Homo sapiens: one gene and its partners. The protein of the gene in region 2 interacts with the protein of the main gene of each other region in a pairwise test. Each region holds a gene or a part of one and is shown on either strand. Other genes may lie near its edges.

Region 1 (3,750 bases), on a different chromosome or scaffold from region 2:
CCTCTATACATCTGGACAGGCTGAGGAGCTGGACAGGGTACATAGTTCTGGACTGGGCATTCTACATAACAAGTTTCTGTATAACAAACTGGAGCACATTCTACGAAGCAAGTCTGAACAGGTTGTGACGCTTCGCACTGCACGTAGGACACCTCAGATTGGCATGGAGCCTGGCTTTGAACAGAGGAAGTTTGAGATTGGGATGCAGCCTGGCCCTTCACCTGGGTGGTCTTAGACTGACATTGAGCCTGGCCCTTCACCTGCTTGGTCTTAGACTGGCACTTCACCTGTGTGGTCTGAGACTGGCATGGAGCCTGGTCTGACACCTGGCAAACTTGAACTGGGCATGATGCAGGGCAGTCCACAATTTGCATCTCACAAGGGGCTTGAACCACCACTTGGCTCTGGGCAAAGGGGGATTGAGAGGAGCAGAAGGAGGGACCCTTGACGCAGCACTGTTGGAGCGGCAGGCGGCACTGGATCTGCTGCTGGTCACACATGGTCCTGATGCAGCCAGTCAAGAGTGACCTGAGGGCAAAGAGACCAGGGTCAGGAGGGTGAGAGTTGGAGAGGGGGTGCCAGGACCTAGAGGAAGACACCCTGCATCTTCCCTAGCTTTTCTTCCTCCACCCTCAACTTTCATCCAAGTGTCCTGACTTAGTTCGACCCAGGATTAATCTGTTAGACCTGCCCTGGGTCTGTCAAAGGGCACATCCAGGGTTGCAGATGTCCAGGATCTCCCTGGGGGTGGACCTACCAATGCCCAGAAAAGAGGGCACTGATGACAAAAGGATTCTCCTTTCGTCTCCACACTTTCTCACATCCAATGTGGTCTGAGCAGCCCTACAGGAAGTAGAGATAACAACTTGCTCCTAAGGCTATAGCCCAAAGTGGAAACTCCATTCCCACAGGAGCTTGGATTTACTCACACATGTGCACTGGCAGTACACATAAATGTGCAAACATGTAAGAACGTACATATGAGAATAAGCACTCAGCACCATCTGCATTCACAAAATGTCAAAGCATTCACTGGAAAGCGGGCAGCTCAAACCCAACATTAAATGTTTGTTTCTCTATATTCAATGTTTTTAGATAAATTCATTTAAACATGATACAATGTTTTGAAATAAATTCATTTAAACATGACACAATGTTTTGAAATAAATTCATTTAAACATGACACGTGCAAAGTGTGCCCATGCAAAACACACCAGCCTTGGAAAGACTCTGACCACCATGGCAACTTGCCCAGTCAGGTTGCTGTTGCTAATCACCTGAAGTGTGACAGTCTGCAGGCCTCAGAAATGTTTTTCCCCAGCTCTTCTTAGAGGCAAGGTGGAGTTACCTAAGATGGAGTAAGCCAGAAAGTCCAAGGTTCTTAATCAGAAGACGGACATTCTGCCATACTTAAAGATCTACGCAGCTGGGGCATTGCAAACATAACGTGAGGGCTGCAGGCATACACCCTGACACCATGCTTAGCTGGGGAGAGCACAGGGCAGCCTCACTCGTCTGCTTGTGTCAGATGCACGTGTTTATGTGCAGGCAGCCCACTGACCAGCAAAACAAGATCATTTGACAACAGGCTCATCCAACAAACCGTCTTTCAATAAGCTCCCCAAATGCTCCTGATGAGGGTTCAAACCTTCTATTTTCAATTTGTAGAGAATACCTACATATCTATTTCCCTGGGGAAGGTAACCCTTCCACACACAACTTTGCTCATAAGGTGTAAATTGCTAATGTGGCTTTTCCAGAAAGATCATGAGGGAAAATAGTACCTGAGGATAAGGTCAGGGTTATCAAAGGCAAATACACTAGCTTCACAGCCCTAGCTCATCTCGTAAACTCTGTAGCTATGCTTCTGTCTCCTAAAAGCTCACCAGACTTTTCTCCTCAGGTTAATGCACCCCTCGCCCTCCCTGGTGCCTAGCTTCTCCCTTCTTTGTGCCTCACGACTGTGAACCTGGGCTCTCCCCTGAACATCACATCCACCCCGATCCCAGGATCCAGTTCCTAGACTCACCCTCCTCACAGGCAAGCAGTCCTTCAGGCTGAGGCATCTGGGAAGAGGGCTGTCTTTATATAAAGGGTTCTGGGTCTGGCTTGGGCCATGAGACAGCTGGTTGGCATCCGCCTGGTGCATCAACCGGGCTGGCATTCCAGCAGCTGGTTCCCTCCCTGTGTGCCTGCCCTTGCCGTCACCTACAGAGTGTGGGAGTGGCTTGTCTTAGTGTTGAAGCCTCAGGACTATGAATAGCAGATTCTTATTTTCTTCCTCCTTCATTGCCCTAACAGTTTCTCCTCCATCCCTAGAAGACCTGATGGTCGGGAGATGAGGAGTGACAAAGGTATCTTCTCTCCTAAAAGATGATTGTATCTGCCAACTTCCACTTTGCTTCAGATTCTTACCAGAGTGACATAAAAGAGGAAGTGTTTTCTAACCTGAAGTAATTTAAGTTACTTCAAAGATAGAGGCAACTCTATAGAAGGATGAGCCCATGGGGCCAAAGGTGAGTCTAACATCCCAGGCCGTGTACTTATAGCTATGCAACCTTTATAAACAATCTGAGTATCAAATTACTCTTCTGCAAAAGAGAGATAATTAAATCTTCCTTCCTGATTGTTGTGAGGATTAAGGCAAAAAACCAAACACCGCGTGTTCTCACTCATAGGTGGGAATTGAACAATGAGAACACACGGACACAGGAAGGGGAACATCACACACTGGGGACGGTTGTGGGGTGGGGGGAGGGGGGAGGGATAGCATTAGGAGATATACTTAATGCTAAATGACGAGTTAATGGGTGCAGCACACCAACATGGCACGTGTATACATATGTAACAAACCTGCACGTTGTGCATATGTACCCTAAAACTTAAAGTATAATAAAAAAAAATTCATCCAAGAATGATGTTTAAACTATCCCAAATCCACTCAGGGTAAATGCTGGCCATAAGCCACAGGCACTGCTGAGTCATGGGTGCCTGCTGCCTCCCCATCCTGAGCTGAGCAAGTGGATGCCTGCACAACAGGTGCTCAGTCAATGCTGCAGAGCAGTATTTGAAGGCAGCACCAGGCAGGTAGTGCTGTGGAGTAGCCCTTAAAGGCAGCACAGTGCAGGGCAGAAATAATAATCTGGTACTCTGTGAGCCACATAGAGTCAAAATGGACAGCTCTTTATGTTTTCCCTCATAATACTGTCATTAATTGTTAGTATTTAAAAATAGGCAGATTTTATTAAAGATTCCAGAAATTCAGATTTTCTTCTGAAATAAAAAGATCTAGCATAGTTGAACATACCTTCCATTATCCTGATTAGCAGCTGCCCACCTTAGATAGGGCATTGCTATAGTTTGCGTGTTTATCCCTTCCAAACCTCATGCTGAAATTTGACCCCCAGTGTTGGAGATGGAGCCTAATAGCAGAAGTTTGGGTTATGGGGGAGGATACCTCATGAATAGATTAATGCCCTCTCTGGTAGGGGTGGAGGTTAAGGTCTCTCTCTATTTGTTCCTGCAAGAGCTGGTTGTTAAAAAGAGCCTGGCACCTCCCTCACCCCTCTCGTGCTTCTTCTCTCTTCATGTGATGTCTGCACAGCCTGCTCCCCTTCACTTTCTACCATGAGTGGAGGTGGCCTGAGTCCCTCACTAGAAGCCGATGCTGATGCCATGCTTCTTGTTCAGCCTACAGAAATGTGAGCCCAATAAGCCTCTTTTTTTTTTCTTTTCTAAATTATCCGGCCT
Region 2 (3,750 bases):
TTGAGACGGCATCGTGGCAACAGCACAGAGGCTGCCTGCTGGGGGCTGGGGTTGCCAGAGGACGGTTCCACCTCCGGGGGTGCTCCAGGGGGATTGGCACCATTGCCTCTCGGCTGCTCACCAGATGCCTGTGGCACCTGGGCTGGTCTCGACATCAGTGCCAGGCTTGAGGAGGATGGGGATGGTTCCCTACAGGGAGAACATGTGGGAGAAGGCCCAGAGAAGGCTCAATGCTCCTCCCTGCCAAAATGGCGAGAAACTCATAGCACCAGGGCACTAGGAGAGAACAAGCACAAAGCCAGATAGGGCTGGGGAAAGGCCAGTTAGCCCAAAACTGGGAGTGCAAAACACCCCGCGCATGGAGAGACAGAACACTGGAGAGGAGAGGGCAGCAGCCCTGGGAGGCGAGGAGAGCCAGAGCTGCTGCTGGGGGGTAGGGGGCCTCTGTACCTGAGTGGGCGGGTCTGTACTTGCAACAGGAATCGTGAAGAGATACTCCGAGACTCTGACCTCTCTGGGACCTGCACTGGGGCCCCTACCAAGGTCAGAGAAATCATGAATTGGGGCAAAAACCAAGCCCTTGCCCCAGATTTTGCCTCCTTGAGACCCCCAGCCACAGCCTATACCCTGGGACCCTCCTCTCAGGTAGGCAAGGAGGGGAGAAGGGCAAATTGCAGGCACTAAATGCTGGCCCTCTGACCACACCTGGAGCAGCTCCACTGGCCAGAGTCTCAAAGTGCTGTTTTAGAAACTGCTCCTGGTCTGGAGTCTGGGGGCTGCCCTCCTGTAGCCCATAGGGGCCCATGCCTCCCTCCTCTTCTTCCTCTTCTTCATCACCCTCAGCTGGCTCTTCAAGGTCTGAGGAGATGCCATCCACACTGAGGGGCTCCGTGCTCTCAGAGTCTGGGTGTGGGGAGGGGAGAGAGGCATCGCACTGCACCCATCTGTTGCCAGAGCCTCCCCACCCACCTCCAGGCCCCACCCCCCATGGCCCCTCCCTCCAGGCTACAGCCTCACCTTCAGTGGGGTGCTCCGGGCTGGAAAGGCAGCTGCTGCTGTAATCCACAGAGCAGGCACTGTCAGGGCTGTGCTTTTCTGAGCTCCTGCTGCCTGGGTACACTCTTCCCAGAGTTCCCCGGGCTGGAGCCTGCACTTGGAACTCACTGTCAGGATTCCAGCAGGGAGAAGAAAAGGCAGTGAGCAGGGGTAGGCAGCAGCCCCGCTGGACTCCTGCCTGTGATCAGGGTGAGGGATGAGGCAGTGGTGAGCTGGAAGGAAAGCCCTGAGTATCCTGGGGGCCAACCCTCCCTCGACTAAAGAACACTCATAGGGAGGGGAAGACGGGGGCACGGGGTCTGGCTAGGGCAGGATCCTTGCCTGGTATCCATGGTGGGGTTGTCACTCGGCTCCGGGTAGACAATACCATCTTCAATGGGTGCAGGTTCCAGATCTTGGGCAAAGACCCCTTCCTCTTGTGACAATAATCGGATAATATGGGGATAGGAACAAGGTTGGGAAGCCTGAGGCCGAGGGGGCTTTTCATTCTGGGAACACACAAAGGGATGTTAACAGAGCAGAGGTGACAGATGAGGCAGTGGTAGCTGGGGGGTAAGCCCTGAGTATCCTGGGGGCCAACCCTCCCCTTGGAGAAGAGGTGGAGGTGAGTAAGGATGCGGTGTGCACTCATTCAAGGGGAAGCTGAAGGACAGACATCGAGAAGCCAGGCTGGGCTCCAGTTGCTGATGTGAGCTTCTGGATGAACTATATTAGCACTCTGGGCTGCCAACCTCCAGCTACCACTTAATACCAAGAGTCCTCCAAGAAACCCAGCCCAGGGCAAAGGCCACTTTTGCCTCTCTACCCCAACCCCTCCCCTGCCTATCCTGATGACCAAACCATACAGCCCAGCCACCCCCATCCTGGCTTTGCAGTTCAGGTTACCCATGTGCCACAGGGGCAGAGCAAGCATAGCTGGACCAGTGCTCAGGTCCCAGCTGGTGGCAAAGGCTGCCTAAGGCCCCTTGGAACTCTCTAGAGAGCTGGGAGAAAGCAGGCTCACCTGGCTAGTGAGTGAAGTCTCAAGGGCCTCCTGCCCATGCTTCCTGGGACCAGATGGGATGATGGCCAGCGAGTCCTGGCTAGGGTCCTGCAGGCTTGGGGCCAGTGTTTCCAGCTGCCGCAGATCCAGCATGGATCTAACGCTCAGTTCCACACCTGGCTGAACCCAGCGCCCTCTTCTTCTGGGTCCTGGGTTGGCTGCAGGAGCTGGGTCCAGGAACCCCACGGACTCCTGTGCCTGGTGGGAGGTAGGGGGTGGGGGAGGAGTAACAACAACCACACAGTAAGATCAACAAATATCCACATATCCCTTACTATGTGCCTGGCACACTACACATACTAGCTTACTTCATCCTCACAGCAACCTTTTGAAATGGGCACTAGTATAATCCTTGTTTTACAGATGAGGAGACTGAAGCACAGGGGGCTTAAGTGAGCAGTCTGCGTCCCACAGACAGTAAGTGGCCTGCAGATTAGTCTGGCTCCAGAGTTCATGCTCTTAGCTGCATTCCGCATCCTCTGGCACAGGAACCCCTAGTCTCAGCCTTCACCTGGTATCATGGATGCCTCAGAGCTGGGGGTCTCTAAAAGTCTCCTACTCTGAGGACAGCCCCAGCAGCAACCACTTACTACCAAGAGTCCCCCAAGAAATCCAGCCCAGGGCAAAGGCCACTTCTGCCTGTCTACCCCAACCACTCCTTTTGCCTCTCTACCCCAATCACTCCAATAGCTGGGGGCCCCAAAGTCCCCTCACAGCACCAAGGACAAACCTATAGCCCAGGCCTGAGACCCCTGGCCCGGTCAGGGTGCTCCAGAGACACCACAGCATCATCACTCTGTGAAACTGTTGCTGACAACGGAAGGTACTGGTGCTTGGGAACTTGCTCTGAACACCTTGATCCCCCTTTGGCCACCCCAGGGCAGTCGCTGAGTTATGGGTCCCCTCATGGCCTTTTCCCTCTAACTATTCTGGAAGTTCTCCGCTTACCTCCTAACCGGGATCTTTAGAACTGTTTCTCCAGATCTCCGCTCTTTGGATCCTTGATTTCCTGCATTTTAGTTCTAACTATCTGGCTTAGGGGTCCTTTGTCCTCTCCACCTTGAGCTCTTCTCTGATGATATTTACTTCCAGGCACCAGGCAGCTGAACAAGTGCCCCACCTCCCCAGTGCTGACTAACCCTGTGCTCCATCCACCCCAACTGGTCCACAGGAAGGAAATACCTGGGCTTTCTTCACCCCCGCACCCAGGACCAGCCCAGCTGCTTCAACTTCCCCGACAAGGCCTTCCTTGGACACACGAGTGCAGCATGTGGGCAGACCCCATGCCCCAGTACCCTACCAGGCCCAGAGAGCCCTGTTCTCACAGCTCCCTTTGCCTCCTCTAACCTTGGAAGAACATTTTAACAATGGCGACTCACCCGACTCATCTCCCAGTGGGACAGGCTTCGGGGCAAAGCTGGGCTGGGGACCGAGGCTAGACAGAAACAGGCAGTCAGAGGAAGTGTCTCCTGCCCCCCCCCCGCCACCCAACCCTGGAGCCCTGGCCCCATCAGCCCATACCCTGTGTGGCCACAGTGATGCCTCAGTTTCCTCAGCTCACACTGCTCTCACCCCACAGTCTCAGAAAAACCATATCTAGCCATTATACCAACTAGGGCCTGTCTGCCCCCACACCCAACTGCCACAGACCC
Region 3 (3,341 bases), on a different chromosome or scaffold from region 2:
CTCAAGCATCTTTTTGATGCGGATGAATTGAATGATTGGCTGGTCAGAGGCTGAGACAAAAAGATCCCTGCATTCAGGGCAGCCATTAAATGCAATCCCTGCTGCCATGTCATGCAGCTGTTGCTCACTGAGGTGTGGGAAAAAATAATTTGGGATTTTTTTGTGAATAAAAATATTATTTGCAAATATGAGAGATTATTTCTCTCATTGTTAAATAAACTCAAGTGCATGTCTTGCTAGTGCTGACTTCCAATGTCATTTCTACTATGTTGAGAGTTAAATGTAAGTGTCCTTGGGCAGAAAGAGAGGACCTCAGCTTGGATCAGAATCTGTCCTTTATTAGCTACATAACATCACATATTAATTTTTTTTCAGGTGAAAAATGAAGGTAATAATGCATGACCACCTGTTTTGAGAATCAAATTGGATAATAACTATGGTATGTGATATGTGTGTAAATCCCATATCAGGAGTGCTTTCAAATAAAACAAAACACTATATGAGATGAGGATGGTTCAGAATTTATTCAGAAACATATAGGTAAGGATTTCTGCTACCAGGGACACAACACAAATTTATCATGAAAAGAAGAAAGAAGGATACAAGAACGATGAGGAGGATATTGAAAACAAAAAAAAGATTGCAAAGATCATCGATCAGTTGCAGAAACCTAAATTCCTTAGAAGCAGGGAATGAAGCTCTTGACTTTAGAGTCAAAGCTGAGACCATGACTCAAACTTGAGAACAGATGAAGCTGGCACATGATCCACAAGGTGTAAGGAAAAAGAGAATCAGGATGAAGTATTCTGCCCTCCCTCAAGCAGATTTCCAAGATTTTAAACATGTAGAGAATTCATAAAAATTTGGGTGAGAGCATGGTGGCTGTCAGCAGCAAATTAAATTAGTCCCCCAAAAGATGAGTCAGTTGAGCAGAAATTTGTTGTGTGAGGATGGTGGTTCTCTTGGAACGTGATCAGCAGCAAGAAGGCTGGCAGCAGCTGGACACACAGGTGGGCTGGAAGCAAGTGGTCCTGCAGCAGGTGGTCTCACAGCAGGCTGGGCGGCAGCAGGGCTGGCAGCAGTTGGAGCCACAGCTCTGGTTTAGGCAACCAGGCAGGCAGACAGTCGTGGGGTAGTAGCAGGTTCTTCTGCAGTACACAGGTGCACAGGAGCTGCTCTGGCCACAGCTGGACCCACAGCTGGTTTGGCCACAGCAGCTGGACCCACAGCAGGTGGGCTGGCAGCAGGGTGTGCTGCAGCAGGAAGGCTGGCAGCAGCTGGTCACACAGGTGGGCTGGCAGCAGGTGGTCCTACAGCAGGTGTTTTGACAGCAAGTTGGGCGGCAGCAAGGCTGGCAGCAGCTGGACACACAGCAGGCGGGCTGGCAGCAGGGTGTGCTGCTGCAGGTGGTCACAGTGGTGGGCTTCCAGCAGGTGGTCCTGCAGCAGGTGGTCCTGCAGCAGGTAGGCTGACAGCAAGGGGAGCAACAGTGGGTCATGGTGTCAGGGGTGGAGGGTGGGCTTCTGTTCAGAGGTGAGTTTCCCAGAATCTGATGACCCCTTGCAATCTGGACCTTTTATACATCTGGCCTCCAAAGTTTCCACCAATCAGCAGGACTTTTCCTTGTTGTTGTTTACACTGTTTTCCATACTCCCTTTGCGATTGTCAAAGGGGAAGTTGTTTCTGAAATCTTATGAATCTTTTGAAAGTAAGGGTTTAATCTGTTTCTTAATTGAGAATTACTCATAAAAACTTTGTTTCAGATAAAAGGAAGGCAGTCTCATCACCAGCATCATTCCTGCTCTGACCATCATCTGGTCATGTGATAGTTCCTGGTGATCCGGGAAGCAGATAGTTCTCTCTGTCCAGCCTCATGGTTGACTGTATGTAGACTGGGAAATGTCTGTGGGCAGTCGCGTGATGCTGTTATGTTCACAGTGATGCATTGAATCCGTGCCCGGCACCAAGCCTATTTACCCACAAAAGTCTGATTCAAGAGTAACAAGCATCTTTCTCGCTACAAACTATTCCACCTGTGTCTTCCAGTTCTATTACACTCACTAGGGAAAGGGTGTTTGGCACAATGTATTCCAAAATGCAGAGCTAGACCAAAGCAGGTGGGTAGAAAAAGGAGTCCACTGGGATTCAGAAAGCATCGAGTGTCTCTGTGATGGTGTTGCCATTTACCCTGATTTGCCTGGGACTGAAGGGTTTACCAGCATGGGACTCTCTGTGACGTAAGTGCTCTAGATTCGGGCAAATCAAGCTGAGTTCTGGTCCTAGCTTGTTAATTCTAATACTTTTTGTATTTTTTTTTGGTGTGACAGAAAATTGCACATGTGCAGTCATGACTCATAAAAAATAGTAATAGTTTTCTTCGCTTTATAAGAGTATTTTTAATCTTGCTTTTTTTTTGGCCCTTGTCCAGGGGTAGACCCTCCAGGGCAATGTCTAATAGAATGGTGTAGTGTATATCTTTTTATATTCGTTGGATAGAAAGGAGAACTCTCAGTATTTCACAATTAATTACGATGCTTTCTGTCTTTTTTGTAGATTCATTTCATCATAGCAACAGGTCTTGTTCTATTCCTTATTTTCTGAGAGACAGAAAACTGAAAATGTACTGAAATTTACAAAATGCTTTTTCTTTATAAGCTGAAATAATGTTATGATTATTCTACCTTTTCAGTAAGTGTTGTTTTATTCTATGTTTTTTGAGACAGAGTCTTGCTTCGTCACCCAGGCTGGAGTGCAGTGGTACAATCTTGGCTCACTGCAATCTCCACCTCCCGGGTTCAAGAGATTCTCTTGCCTCAGCCTCCTGAGTAGCTGGGACTATGGGAGCACACCACCATGCCCAGCTAACTTTTGTATTTTTAATAGAGACAGAGTTTCACCATGTTGGCCAGCTGATCGCAAACTCCTGACCTCAAGAGATCCACCTGCCTCGGCTTCCCAAAATGTGTTATTTTAAAAGTTGATTAATGTTCAAATATTAGCCCAGTCTTGCATTTCTGAAAACAATTCATGTGGTTACGATCATATGTATATGCCATTGGATTTTATTTACTTATATTTTGTTTAGGATATTTACTATCATTGCATTCCAAAAATATATTCTCCTATTCTTACTCTATTTCCTCTACCTTCTCTAAGTAAAGAAATTCCGAATATAGCAAAATTCCTACCCTTCTGTGCCCAATTTGACCTTGATGTGACCCCCTGTATTGGTTTTTCTAAAGGCAATTTCATGCCCCATGAAATACTCTAGCAGTTCTATTGCAGAGTGTGGGCTTGGGGATCAACAGTTCTTTTTTCAACAGGGGCACTAGACTATCCCA

What was found.
Region 1: the proteins of MAPKBP1 (region 2) and KPRP interact in binary tests that used the Homo sapiens proteins (3 or more experiments, as listed by UniProt).
Region 3: the proteins of MAPKBP1 (region 2) and KRTAP9-2 interact in binary tests that used the Homo sapiens proteins (3 or more experiments, as listed by UniProt).

What each region holds. Positions count from the first base shown.
Region 1 is NC_000001.11:152,756,339-152,760,088, reverse strand, and holds the start of KPRP (keratinocyte proline-rich protein), read right to left. Parts: upstream 2,065-3,750; 5' UTR 2,030-2,064; intron 1,349-2,029; exon of another isoform or gene 1,278-1,348; intron 529-1,277; 5' UTR 501-528; coding exon 1-500.
Region 2 is NC_000015.10:41,819,378-41,823,127, reverse strand, and holds part of MAPKBP1 (mitogen-activated protein kinase-binding protein 1), read right to left. Parts: coding exon 3,749-3,750; intron 3,534-3,748; coding exon 3,478-3,533; intron 2,297-3,477; coding exon 2,060-2,296; intron 1,545-2,059; coding exon 1,378-1,544; intron 1,164-1,377; coding exon 1,018-1,163; intron 904-1,017; coding exon 706-903; intron 536-705; coding exon 451-535; intron 190-450; coding exon 1-189. UniProt on the Homo sapiens protein: Negative regulator of NOD2 function. It down-regulates NOD2-induced processes such as activation of NF-kappa-B signaling, IL8 secretion and antibacterial response. Involved in JNK signaling pathway.
Region 3 is NC_000017.11:41,224,812-41,228,152, reverse strand, and holds KRTAP9-2 (keratin-associated protein 9-2), read right to left. Parts: upstream 1,506-3,341; 5' UTR 1,499-1,505; coding exon 974-1,498; 3' UTR 501-973; downstream 1-500. UniProt on the Homo sapiens protein: In the hair cortex, hair keratin intermediate filaments are embedded in an interfilamentous matrix, consisting of hair keratin-associated proteins (KRTAP), which are essential for the formation of a rigid and resistant hair shaft through their extensive disulfide bond cross-linking with abundant cysteine residues of hair keratins.